Linked DNA regions of Homo sapiens. The protein of the gene in region 1 purifies or fractionates together with the protein of each later gene. This does not show direct contact. Each region holds a gene or a part of one and is shown on either strand. Other genes may lie near its edges.

Region 1 (3,179 bases):
AATGGGGACTGACTCCTGGCAAGATGGGGACCCCATTTGAGAAGGGAAGTGAGAACAAGGAATTGAGGAGGGAGGGTCCAAGCTGCCGGTTCGGAAGCAGAACGCTCTTCGCTAGGTGTGGTATTAGGGGGACAGTCCCTGCAGAACAGCAAGTCAGTGAGCACACAGACGTTGGCCCCCGGGTGCGGGGAAGGCTGCCCCACCCTGCCGGGAAAGGCCCCGCGGTCCCTGTGTGGGGATGGGAGGCGGCCGCTGGGCAGCCCTCGGCCAGCAGAGGGCGACGTGGCAGGTGCGGCGACTAGGCTGCTCCCAATCTGGGGTAGGAACTGAGATTTGGGCCCCCGCGGGGGTCTGAGCAGGGGCGTGAGGAAACTGTGACCTGTCTAAGGGCAAAGCTGGGCGTGTATCCTGGGACCCTCTTCTCCCCGGATCCCTCTGGTTTTATCTGGACCTCTGCGACGGGCCACTGCAGAGGCATCGGCCTGGGAAGACTCCGGAGCTCAGGATTTAACCATGGTTTATTGCAGACCTATTGTGTGCCAGGCATGAGCCCAGTGCTCCCACAAACAGCGTCTCCAGGTACGAGAAGTGTAATTTCGACCCTGGAACACCTTCCTGCACTCAGACAGAAGCATGTGCAGACTGCTCTCAGCAACGCCACCTCCTTCACTCCCTGGCCATTGGGCCCCCTTCTCTCTACCTGTCCCCTGTCACTCCACTTCCTGCCCCAGGCCTTCTCTTAGGGATTTTCCAGGCTTTGGGGAGCTGCTGCTTTCAGTTTCTGGCTGTGGGGTCTCAGCAGGAGTTTGTTCCAAAACCCAGTAGAAATAAAATCCTTCAAGAGGGAGATGATTCGTGGGCTGGGTGGATTCCAGTGACCAGAGGACGTGCAAACTCTGCCCTAATGATCTGGGAACCTAGCCCATCCATTGAGCTTTCTGTTTTCACCCAGTTTCACTTCCTGGTTCTCTTCCGAGCCTTGCACAATGCTGGGAGACAGGCCTAGAAAAGTGCCACCATGAGGATGGTGGAAGACACACATAAGATGCCGGCCTGGGGAGGCTACTCTGGGTCATTACAGCAGGAGCGGGGAGAGCTTTCTTCACTGCCCTGCCCCTAGGCTGAGGACGACTAAGGCCAGGTCTTCCCAACCTTGGGGCTGTCCTTGTCCATAGCCTGAGTCTCCACCCCCGCTCCTTATATTCCTCAAGCTCCCCTCCAATCCACTTCCCTGCAGCCCACTTCCCTGCACCCAGGGACCAGGACAACCTGCTCCATACGTGAGCATACATACATCCTTGAAATTTCCAAATGCCAAACTTTCTGTGTGTCTCTCTAGAGCCATTGAATTCTCCTGAGACACACTCTCTGGGCCTGGCCAGGGGTGTGGGCCTGAGCCAGGGGCCAGTAGGGGAGCTGGAGCCTTCTTGGATGGAGCCAAATTTCTTTTGAGCCTTGGAAGCCTTGGAGGAAGCCGCCCTGCAGTCCTGGGGCAGAGAAGACTATGCCACAGAGAGGGCGAGGGGCTGGCTTGTGGTCAAAAGGCCCAGAGCTGTCTGAGCCCAAGGGTGGCCACTGGCATGGTTTTAGGCAAGAACTGGAGCTTGCAGACTTAGACTAGGAGGTGCTCCAGACACTCCTTGAGTCAGGTAAAGTTATTTTCAAACCCCCATCTTGAGGCAAATTGCCAGGGGCTGGAGCATAAGGAATAGATGAGACTGAAGAAGTTAGCTGTGATATAGGCTGAAGTGTCAGAGAACTAGAGCTAAAGAAGCCTCAAAGGACATCAGGACCAAATCTTCCAATATGTAGATAAGAAACAAAGGTCCTGGCCAGGCGCGATGGCTCACACCTGTAACCCCAGCACTTTGGGAGGCTGAGGTAGGTGGAACACCTGAGGTCAGGAGTTCGAGACCAGCATGGCCAGCATGGTGAAACCCTGTTTCTACTAAATATACAAAATTAGCCAGGCATGGTGGCATGTGCCTGTAATCCCAGCTACTCGGGAGTCTGAGGCAAGAGAATGATTTGAACCTGGGAGGTAGACGTTGCGGTGAGCTGGGATCATGCCATTGCACTCTAGCCTGGACAACAAGAGCGAAACTCCGTGTCAAAAAAAAAAAGAAGGAAAAAAGAAAAGAAAAGGTCCTGAGACAGGCCTGCTTTTGTCACATGGAGCAAACATCCGGGGTCAGACCTGGGTCTCTTGACACCCACTGACCTTCCCCCTGCCATGCTTGGCCTCGATATCCTCTCAGTTAATCTGAAAGTCCTGGGCCTTGCCCATCTGACCTGCCCTTTTTCCACTGGCCTGTGATCCTGCCACACCTCAGTAGGACCTCTTAGGATTTAATGCCCTAGTAAGTCAGGCCCCAGCTCTCTCAGGCAGCTGACATTCAGCAAGCTGCACTCTTGTTGAGGAGACAGAAAGCCCAAGGCATCATGGAGCTGAGATACAAATCCACAGAGAGAAACTGATGGGCCCTGGCTCTCTGGAGCTTATGCTAGAGGCTGAGGCCTGGCAGGGAAGTGTGTGCCAGGGGCTGGACAGGGCCCTGTGCCACCCTGGCAGCTCTGGTGGGGCAGTGGGGTTGATCAAGGGCAGGGGGCAAAGTGCAGGCCCGGGCTCTGAGTCTGGGACTGGGATTCCCTGGCTTGGCACTCTGACTCTGGAGCCTCTTTTGCATCCTGTCCCGGGAGTGGTAGGGGGTGCACCATGCTGGCCATAGGGGTGGGGAGAGAGCCAGGCGTCAGGGAGCCTGCCGCTTTGAGCAGGCCAGACAGCAGGGGATCAGGTTTCAGCCCAGCTGTATTTTTGGCTGGGTGGGCTGGGGGCCGAGCAGGCAGGCGCAGCTGCCCATCCCCAGCACACACCACACTCACACTACCTCTACCCAGATAGGGCACCATCCACTGCCCCCCACCCCCCCAGCCCCCTGCAGGCAGAAAGGAATCAGGTGCTCCTGGGCTATTGAATCACTTTAGGCTTCTCTGGACTGTTGCTAATTTTTTGTAGTGTCTTCTTGATCCGCAGCGCGGTGAGTCGGGCAGAGGGGTTTGGGTACCAGCACTCCCGCATCATCTGAGCTAGGCCTGAGAGGACCTGGGGGTTGGGAGAGAGGTGCAGAGGAGAGGAGGCAGAGAGAGAGATGCAGAGAAGAGGAGGGGGTCGGGAGAGA
Region 2 (3,500 bases), on another chromosome or scaffold:
GCTGTCGGTTATTAATCAAATTCTGACCATTTGGGGCTGTTACAGCAGTTATTGCATAGCTTTGTGTATTGTCTCTAGAGATAGCAACCTGACTTCCTATAAGTCTGACATAACAGGCTGGTTTCCTGGTCTGTTTATTTTAGATAAAGGGCTGGTTTTCTGGGCAGACTGCTGTAAATTTTGAGTCAAAGTTCTATTTTTATTTATGGTCTGACCATTATCTCTTCGTATATTTAGTTTCTCAACTTTCACAGGAAAAAACAAAACAATATATTGTTCAAAAACAGACTATTTTCACAATAAAAAGTTATTGCTTTTGTATCTTAACACGACAATGTAAGTATCATTTCTTTTTTTTTTTTTTAATCAGTTGAGTTTTGTCTATATAAACAAATTTTCCTACTGGGGAGGTGGAGACGTGTGGGAAGAGACCTCACATCAAAACCTCCTAACGATGTGACTGCCACTTGAGGAAAAGTCACAATGGTGCTCCTCTGAAACAGAATGTTCTGTGTGGTTGGTGCAGAATTCTCTGGGGACACCCCTCCCTTGGGTTTTGACATGTGAACCCTCCTCAGTCACCACTAGGTACACAAAGCGTCCTTGCCAAAAATGCAAGACAGCTCTACAAACCTTTTGTTTCAATAAGGAAGAAATGTGTTTCAAAAGATTCGACTTGATAGCTAACCCAGAATTTCTTATGAAAGGCTAGTTTGTATCAAATAAACAAATACAACTTACACTTGCAAATCTAAATATAAGAGTGTCTTTAAACAAATATGAAGAACACTTAACTTTTTTTTTTTCTTTTTGAGATGGAGTCTCACTCTGTCACCCAGGTTGGAGTGCAGTGATGCAATCTCAGCTTGCTGCAACCTCTGCCTCCCAGGCTCAAGTGATTCTCCTGCCTCAGCCTCCTGGGACTACACACACCCACCACCACACCCGGTTAATTTTTGCATTTTTAGTAGAGATGGGGTTTTACCATATTGGCCAGGCTGGTCTTGAACTCCTGACCCCAAGTGATCCACCTGCCTTGGCCTCCCAAAGTGCTGGAATTACAGGCATGAGCCACTGCACCTGAACAAGAACACTTAACTTTAAAAGGAGAAACACTGCTTTTTTCTAGGAATTAAAAATCCAGATAAGCTTTGCAGAAATAACATTTTGGACTGAATTGGTCCACAGAAAGTACACAGTCCAGGCCTCTGATATAACAGATGAGGATACCAGGGTATGGGGCTTGGAATATAGAATGTGCTCAAACTAGAACTGACCCATGACTGAATGGATGCTTCAATATTCCCAAAGTTCACATGGCTAATAGAAAGAGTTTTACTAAATTTCAACATGACAGAACTCAACTGACAGTTTTTTGGGCACGAAGTACCAATTATCCAAAATAAACTCAATAGTCCACATGCTCATGATCTCCCAGTCTACCGGGTCAAACATCCAAAGAGCAAATATACTTATAAAGTAATTATTATATACAATAATAAATTCCAAATGAAAAATGACTTGGAAATACTGCAATAGGAGTATGTACGAAGCACAACATGCTGAGAAGGAGCCTGTAGGTTAGCCTTCTGGGGAAGAGAAGGGTTAGCCTAAGCTCGGTACTGATAACTAGGGTCTATCAATTAAGGCATATTATGAGGAAACCTCAGCACTAGTGAAACCCGAGAGTAAAAGCCACTTCCACTGCCCCCTTCCAGGAACAGAAACCGAAACATAACATCAGAAAATTTCCAATCACCACCCCACTCCCAAATACACGTAGAGTGATTATTCCAGTTCTCTGAACTGGGGAGGGCGCATCTTTAGCCTAGACGCCCCTCTGGGTGACTAATGACAGGTGAGCACATTGAACAAGGTGACTCCTAAGACAAGGCTGTATGTAGCCAACATCTTGAGAGCAATCTGAAGTTGGAGATTTTACTACAGCCAAGGAGAAAACGGAGAAAAATACTTGAGAAATGTGTTAGCTGTGTTGTTATTCTTAATAAACGGTAACGCTGGTCAACGACCTGAACACTGCAGTGGGCCCAGGTCAAGCTTGACAACATGTAAATTTTGCCCTCTCTGCCCAATGCCTCTCCAGGGCTCCCAGCCCCAACGTCTCTCTGATTACAGCCCCAGTGAGACCCACCTTCGCTTCCTCTAGAGATTGAATGGCCCCTACATCCTCCAGGCCTTCCTGAAGCTCAAAAATGTCCAAGGTCCCATCCTTGTTATAGTCCAGGTACCAAAAGAGATCTCCGTAGAGGGAGTCCATCGAGGATGTCTCCCTCGCAGCTCCGCGGCCTGAGTGAGCCCCAGCGGGGTGGAAGTGCGACCGACGAACGGGATCTCTGCCCACCACACACGTCCAGTGGGAAGAGGCCTAAGACAGCATCCTCCTCAGGGGCGCCAAACACAATGCACCTTCATCGGTTAAAGCTCTGGAAGGAGAGGGCTCATCCTAACGGCTTCAGCGCAAAGGCGCGAGCGCGCAGGACCCGGGACCTGCGTGGGACCGCACTCTGGGCTGCGCTGGGAGACCGCGGAGTTCCTGCCTCACTCACGTCTGATCAGAAGCCCCGGCTCCCACTCCAGGAAGAGTCCAGTCGGGGCAACTCAAGCCCCTTTCCCCAGAAACTTCCAGGGAGAACCCAGCACAGGGCCATCTGAAAGTATAGCTTCTCTTTTGGAGAGAAGTAGGTTGGGAATGTTGGGACATGGGCTATTGCAGCATAAGTGACTGGCGGTGGCGGCCTGCCAACATTTAAAAAAAATTGTTTGGCTGCACCTGTCTAGGAATCCTTCTTTTTAAAAATCCTTATAATGATTTTTTAAAATAAAATAATTTTATTGTAGATTCAGGGGTTACACCATCAGCTTGTTACAAGGGTATACTGTGTGATACTGGGGTTTGAGCTCCTAATCGTGCCATCACCCAGGTTGTGAACAAAGTACCCAGTAGGAAGCTTTCCAGCCCTTGCCCTCCTCCCTCCCTCCCCCCTTTTGGAGTCCCTAGTGTCTATTGTTCCCATCTTTATGCCCCATTTACCCAAGGTTTAGCTCCCCCTGTAAATGAGAACACAGTATTTGTTTTTCTGTTTCTACAATAATTCGTTTAAGTTATTGGCTTCCAGCTGCATTCATATTGCTGCAAAGGACATGATTTTGCTCCTTTTTTATGGCTGCATAGTATTCCATGGTGTGTATGTACCACATTTTCTTTATCCAATCTGCTGCTGATGGGTACCTACATTGTGTTGTAGGAATCCTTTTCTAAGGTTGCAGCACTGGAGAATTGCTGTAATAAAGACTAGGAATTGAATGAAAATCTGCCCACATGGGCCCTTTCTTCTGTGACACCTCCCCTCACAGTTTTTTATCTTTTATCTTCATCCAACCACTACAATGGCTCCAGGGCAAGCCTATCCTTCAGCTGTTAGTGGCTGGATTGGAAAGATGATCTCAAAATAGGCAAAAGTTCAGTGATCTTGGGTCCC
Region 3 (3,500 bases), 2.5 Mb from region 1:
AAGTTATCTGTGGAGAGGTAGCAGGTGCCCACGGGGTCGCTCAGTGGCTCCTTCTCTGTGCGCCAGCTGTACAGTGGAGCGCATGCCTGGGAGGGCCCAGGAGGAGGGGCCTTCAGATTCAGTCCAATAAGGCCCTTCCTCCCTCCCTCCAGGCCCGGCCTTACCCAACCACTGCCCATCCCCTGGCCACCACACCACTGAGCTTGCTGGCCCCTCACCAAGATGGAGGAGCCATGGGCTCGAACTGTTGCCCCGAACCACTGCAAGGACTTGTACTCCACAGGCTCCTCTCCCTCTGAGCTGGACAGTGAGGACTCCAGGAGCCGAGAGCCTTGTGGAAGTGAGAAGGGGGAGTCTTACTGAGCCATGGACATTTGAGCTCTAGGGCAGCCCCTACCCTCAGCCTGGGGATACCCAACAAACGCTTCCAAGCCCTGAGACTCCATGACTCGCTGGGAGTGTGGAATTGGTAAGGAGCTTAATTCTGCTTTGTGTAGTCTGTTTGTGTAGCCTGACTTATCTCTCCACTACACACATACACATACACACACACACATACATACACACGCACGCACACGCACACAGAACCTGGGCTTTCTTTTTTTTTTGAGATGGAGTCTCACTCTGTCACCCAGGCTGGAGTGCAGTAGCATGATCTCGGCTCAGTGCAACCTCCGCCTCCCTGGTTCAAGGGATTCTCCTGCCTCAGCCTCCTCAGTAGCTGGGATTACAGGTGCGCGTCACCACACCTGGCTAATTTTTGTATTTTTAGTAGAGACGGGGTTTCATCATGTTGGTCAGGCTGATCTCGAACTCCTGACCTCATGACCTGCCCGCCTCAGCCTCCCAAAGTGCTGGGATTACAAGCGTGAGCCACTGCGCCCGCGTAGAACCTGGGCTTTCTAGAGTTGCCTCCCCAAGGTTCCTGCTTTCTCACCCAACTGAGACAAGGATGCCTGCTGTGGAGCAGGGGCAGGAGGATGGTGGGGAACAGTGGCTATTTCCCAAGAGAGTAACCCTTTGGCTGCACTTCTTTGTCTATACTTGGACTGTGTCTCTAACACCATCTTGTTCCACCTCCTTTTTTTTTTTTTTTTGAGATAGGGTCTCACTCTGTTGCCCAGGCTGGAGTGCAGTGGCGTGATTATGGCTCACTGCAACCTTGACCTCCTGGGTGCAAGTGATCCTCCCACATCAGCCCCCCAAGTGGGTGGAAACTATACCCAACTAATTTTTGTGTTTTTTGTACAGATGGGGTTTTGCCATGTTGACCAGGTTTATTTTAATTTTTTTTTTTTTTTAAACAGGGTCTTGCTCTGTCACTCAGGCTACAGGGCAGTGGGGCAAGTAGCACTCATTGCAGCCTTGGCTGCAGTGACGGAGAATCACTCAAGTGATTCTCCCACCTCAACCTCCCGAGTAGCTGGGACTACAAGTGCTCACCACTATGCCTGGCTAATTTTTTTTTTTTTTTTCTTGAGACAGAGTCTTTCTCTGTAGCCCACGCTGGAGTGCAGTGACATGATTTCAGCTCACTGCAATCTCTGCCTCCTGAGTTCAAGCAATTCTTGTGCCTCAGCTTCCCAAGTAGCTGGGATTACAGGCAAGTGCCACCATGCCCGGCTAATTTTTGTATTTTCAGTAGAGACGGGGTTTTGCCATGATGGCCAGTCTGGTCTCAAACTCCTGGCCTCAGGTGATCCACCTGCCTTGGCCTCCCAAAGTGCTGGGATTACAAGCATGAGCCACCACACCCAGCTCTGTCTAATGTTTTTGGTAGAGACAGGGTCTCACTATGTTGGCCAGGATGGTCTTGAACTCCTGGGACCAAGTGATCCTCCTGCCTCGGCCTCCCAAAGTGCTGGGATTACAGGCACATGCCACCGTGCCCAGCCTGTCCAGTTTTTATTTCTGGAGACAGATGGCCCTAGTTCATATCCTCTCTCCAATGTTTGCTAGCTGTATAACCTTGGATAAGCTACTTACCCTCTGTCTCCTCACTTAGAAAATGGGGATAATAATACCTTATACAGTTGTTGAAAAGATTAAGTGAACTAATATATGTAAAGTGTTCACAACTGGGCCTGGCACAGAGCAACTGATAGCTGTTAGTCTCCATCTTCCTCCCATCCATCTGTGTCTACTCAGACCTTGAGCTCCTTGAGGGCAGTGGCTTAGTCATCTTTCAGTCCCTGCAGCACCAGCACAGTGCCTGTCATGCACTGTCACTTAGTCAGTACTTAGTTAAAGGAACTGAATAGTTTGTGCAACATTCCCTGTCTTTGTCTGTGTTACGGCCCTGGCCTCCCAGAATTGTGGGTGATTCAGGGGAAATGAGAGCCACATGTTTCTGAATCATGCCCGTCCTCCTTGGGCTGGGCTGGATGGGAGAGTGGAGTGAGTGCCATGGGGATCCACTGTAAGCAGTTGGAGCACCAGAGCTGGTGCTGAGAGGTCACGTGGCCGGGGTTCCAGCAGGCTCCACCCCTCGCCCCAGGCCCCACCCAGGCCTTGCCCCCAGGCTGCAGTCCCACCCCCCAGTCCCTCCCTGAATTTCACTGGCCTACCTTTGCTGTCAAATTCAATGGGGGTGCACTGTGTGGGGCTGGCACCCCAAGGACAGAGGTAGACAGCACCACCCTGCAGCACTCCTGGCTGGCTGGTATTAGCCTTGGGTGCTCCCACCAGCACACTGACCCTGTGGGGGGGAAAAGCGAGGCAGTTGAGGATGGCTCCTAGCTTTTCATTGGTGTCTGGAGGCAGGAAGGACCCAGGCCTCTAGGCTGGGGCTGGCTGGGGGTGGAGTAGATGCCCCCTGCGTTGTATTTATATCTCAGAAGATGCCACAGATGCCAGAGGCACAGGCTGGAGTCAGGCGGTCCCCATGTGCCGCTGTCACTAACACAACCCTCCCCTCCTCCCGCCATTCTCTGTCCTCTCCTACCTTATCCTGTTCATAAAGAGAGGAGGAACCACAGTCAATTTCTAGAAGGGGAAGAGGGGCCAGAGCCTGTACCCCTGGCTTCTCCCTCTCCTCTACGTACCTGCTGAGATTAGATGTATAGCTTCTGGAGCGCCAAGGTCCTGTGGAGCCTCAGGGTCTCTCATCTAGCCTATATACTCTCCTCCCAAGCCAAATCCCCTCCCTGGGCCAAGACCCAGGCATCCGGCTGCCCAGCCACCCAGCCTTGGGGCGTGTAGGAGGAAAATGTGAGTCTTGGAAATCAGGCAGCAGGAGTGGAGAGAGGAGCTGGAGGACAGTGAAAACAGATTGTTCCACTGGGCCTGGGCCTGCCCTCACCCCGGCCCTGGTGTGGGCCTCCCCTTCCTGGCTGGGTCTGTGTTTCAGCCCTTGAACCCCTTTCCCATAGACCACCCCCAGCTGACTGAATTCAGAGTCTGCTCTACCGGGGTCCCAGTTCTGGACACAGTGCTTCTGTTCCCCCTGATATGAGGGGAAGTTTGCCCTGTGTAATGGGGTGGTCATAGCTAAGGGCCTG
Region 4 (3,150 bases), on another chromosome or scaffold:
CTGGAAAGTCCCTTGGCAGCGCAGGATCACACTCTTCCCAGGAAACACCACAGGACCTGGCTGTGCCAGGAGAGTGGGTTTGGGGTAGAATTCTGAAATTAAAGAGACCACAGCATGAGATAAACCCAGCCCTCACATCCTGCAAATAGCCTTTTAAAGTGTTATTGTAAGACACAATATATGTTTGTTGTTAAAAATTAGAAAATATAGAAAAAAAAACTAATGAAGGAAACACAATTCTACCACTCAAAGATAAATATTTTTAATATTTAATTGCCATTTATTCTTTCCATATATTCCCATGTCCATGTAGCTATAACTGTTTACATAATTGGGACTCCACTTATGCACAGTTGTGTAGTTGTGTAGTATGCAGCTGACATTTCAAGGTCTTCTCCCTTTCTCTGAGAGCCATCCAGCCCACCGGTCTCTGACAGCCCAGCTAGAGAAAAAGTGGACATTGAGCCTAAAGCTCAATGCCAAGCCATAAAAATGTGCAGAAATAGGGCAAGTTGAACCGAGCTCTTGGGATTAGACACCCCCATCTACCTCATTTATTTCCCCAGAAGTGAATTGCTTGCCTCCCCACTGCCTTTGTTTCTTGTTCCTGTAATAATAACATGAGCAGCTGTGCATCATGGACTGGTCACTATGGGCCAGCCGCTGTCCTAAGCACGTTCTCAGTGTGTTTTAGAAGAAACATTTCTTCCTCTCCCACTGACAGCCTTCCACCCACCATCCCAGGGTTGGCACCACCTCTACCTGGAGTCCCCCCTCCTAACCTGTCACCACGAGCTCCACAGGGTCGCTGGGCTCAGACCAGATAGAAAAGTCATAATATCGGCAGCTGTAATTCCCTCCATCACCAATGCCCACCGAAATGATTAGAAAGTGAGCTGCACTGGCCCCCGGACTTGCCCAGGACCTGTCACTGGATGCTATTTCACTTCCATCTTTGTAAAGAATAAAGCTCATATGCTGGTGGGGGGTGGAGCAATTGAAAGTCACTCGGGCACCAGGGGTGACCACAGGGCTGGCCCATGTCTTGAAGAAGGGCTTAGGGTACATTTCTAGAAGGCAAAAAACAAAAACAAAAACAAAAAACAAAATACAACACAAAACCAAATTAAGAACAAGAAAGAGAGAAAGCAAATATAGCAAATATTGGTTCTCGGAGGCTTCTTTGCTTTTAAGTAAGTGCATTTAAAAAGTAAGGTAAATCCACTTTGCAGATGGACTTCTCACACAGGGACCCTTCAACCCCACCCCTCACTACCTCCAGATGAGTCCTCAGTGTGATCAGGGCAGGCAATGGAGGCTAGTAAAAAGGTAGAATTTTTCTTGGGGTTCTGCTGATTCTCTGAGCCTCAGTTTGCCCATTTGGACAAGGGGAAAATGGTACCTGCTTCACCCACCTTGAAGAGTTGCTCTATGGTGAAGTGAGATAATTGATGTGAAAATAATTAGAAAAATTAAATCACCCTCCACGAACCAAAGCTATTAATAACGATTATGGCTATTAATATCGTGCAGCCAGAGGCCCTGGCACTCCCAGCGCCACGCCTGCCTGGCTCTAAGATTGGACACAGGCTCTCAGGACCAGCAGCAAAGTTTGCTGCAGGGAGAGGAGTGTCTGACCCAGGGCTTTGCCTTTCCCTCCACCCTGCCCCCTTTCCTCCCACACCCTTTTCAGCTCTACCTTTTATGACAAGCTCCAGCGGCTCACTGGGCTCAGACCACTTGAAGGGGCGTTTTTCAGTGTGAGTGCGGCAGCTGTAATTGCCTTCGTCTTTATCCTCCATTCTCTGGATTGTAAAGAAGGCTTCTCTTCCAACAGCACCAAGTTGCTGGACAGGTTCTTGCTCTCCCTCCTTATACAGAGCAAACCCCATGCCTGCCAGCCATCCTTTGCACCGGAGTTGTAGTTCCTGGCCCCGGATTGTGGGGGAAGCAGAAATGACAGGTTTGGGGAGGATGTCTGGAAAACAGAATGGGGTGAAAAAGGAGTCAGAAGTTTGCAGTTGCCCAGATGGGATACTCAGGGTCACTTTGTCAGCAAATAAAGACATTCATTCTGGGCTGGCCCTAGGCTCTTCCAGTCAGTCTCCTCACACTCTCTTTCCCATTCCGCCCCTCCCCCTACCCCATAACCCCCTACCATTTCAGTGCCCCTCCTCTCCTACATGCAGCACGAGCCCCTTGGGCTCCAGGGTCCCTGTGAGTTCATTCCCTCACTCCCAGGAGCAGTGTTGGAGTCCCAGGGGCACTGGGGATAACTCCCGGAGACCCTCTACATTTTCTTACCTGTCCCCACCAGCTCAAGTGCCTCACTGGGCTCCGATACAGCCATCTCCTCCCATGAATGGCAGTGGTAGCTCCCGGTGTGGCTCTGGGTCAGGGCGCCAAGGGGGAAGGCAGCCCGGACCTGCTCTGAGGCCGGGCGAGTGGCGATCCACCCGGTCCCATCCTTCAGCAACACAAACTCCTTAGTTGAGCCAGAAGGGCTTCTGCACCAGAGGGTTAAGTTCTTCCACGGGGCCAGAGGAAAGTTGGTCTCTGCCCACAGCTCAGGCTTAGGGGTTGGCATGACTATTTCTAGAAACAGCAGAATTAATGAAGCCATCCTCCCGCCTCCCTTCCCCTCCCTCCTCCTTGCCCTTGAACCCTCTACCCAGATCACACTGCCCACCTCCCCTTGCAACCCAAATCCAAACCCTTTCCTTCTTTCCTTCCTTCCTCAGGTGCTGGGGAAAGGGGAAGCTGGTGTCTTATAGCTGAGCCTCAGAAAAGTGCAGAAGCTTGGAGGAAATTTTGCAGGCAGAAAGGCAAAGTTGGAGGCTGAATTTTGCCAGCAGCTTTAGCAAGTGCCCCTTCCTGGCTGCCCTTCCCTCCCAACCAGCCACTCCCTGGCCAATGACACTGACGCTCTGTAGTTATTTCGGATCTCCAGGGAGGAATGTCCCAGTCTGGAGCAGGAAAAACTCACCAGTCTCTTCTATCAATACCCCATTGCACAGTCCTGCAAAAGAAATTGCTGCCAGGACTCGGCCCCCTCCCCCACCGGGACTTCACCCCGGCCTTCTGCCCGGGGCCCCTTCCCCCACTTGTACTCACCACAGCAGAGAAGGGCCGTGACTATGAAGAGCATGG

Evidence for each region. The genes of interacting proteins can lie anywhere in the genome.
Region 2: the proteins of ACVRL1 (region 1) and SLC25A24 purify together in Homo sapiens (affinity purification with mass spectrometry; one large-scale study listed by BioGRID and IntAct). This does not show direct contact.
Region 3: the proteins of ACVRL1 (region 1) and ITGA5 purify together in Homo sapiens (co-immunoprecipitation; one study listed by IntAct). This does not show direct contact.
Region 4: the proteins of ACVRL1 (region 1) and IGSF1 purify together in Homo sapiens (affinity purification with western blotting, with the first as the bait; one study listed by BioGRID). This does not show direct contact.

Annotation. Positions count from the first base shown.
Region 1 is NC_000012.12:51,920,683-51,923,861, reverse strand, and holds the end of ACVRL1 (activin receptor type-1-like isoform 1 precursor), read right to left. Parts: intron 3,104-3,179; coding exon 2,969-3,103; 3' UTR 501-2,968; downstream 1-500. UniProt on the Homo sapiens protein: Type I receptor for TGF-beta family ligands BMP9/GDF2 and BMP10 and important regulator of normal blood vessel development. On ligand binding, forms a receptor complex consisting of two type II and two type I transmembrane serine/threonine kinases.
Region 2 is NC_000001.11:108,190,344-108,193,843, forward strand, and holds part of SLC25A24 (mitochondrial adenyl nucleotide antiporter SLC25A24), read right to left. Parts: intron 2,493-3,500; exon of another isoform or gene 2,279-2,492; coding exon of another isoform or gene 2,153-2,278; intron 1-2,152. UniProt on the Homo sapiens protein: Electroneutral antiporter that mediates the transport of adenyl nucleotides through the inner mitochondrial membrane. Originally identified as an ATP-magnesium/inorganic phosphate antiporter, it also acts as a broad specificity adenyl nucleotide antiporter.
Region 3 is NC_000012.12:54,409,267-54,412,766, forward strand, and holds part of ITGA5 (integrin alpha-5 precursor), read right to left. Parts: intron 2,699-3,500; coding exon 2,568-2,698; intron 470-2,567; exon of another isoform or gene 332-469; coding exon 219-331; intron 87-218; coding exon 1-86.
Region 4 is NC_000023.11:131,276,157-131,279,306, forward strand, and holds part of IGSF1 (immunoglobulin superfamily member 1 isoform 1 precursor), read right to left. Parts: coding exon 3,115-3,150; intron 3,035-3,114; coding exon of another isoform or gene 3,020-3,034; coding exon 2,987-3,019; intron 2,596-2,986; coding exon 2,305-2,595; intron 1,979-2,304; coding exon 1,700-1,978; intron 1,071-1,699; coding exon 783-1,070; intron 93-782; coding exon 1-92. UniProt on the Homo sapiens protein: Seems to be a coreceptor in inhibin signaling, but seems not to be a high-affinity inhibin receptor. Antagonizes activin A signaling in the presence or absence of inhibin B.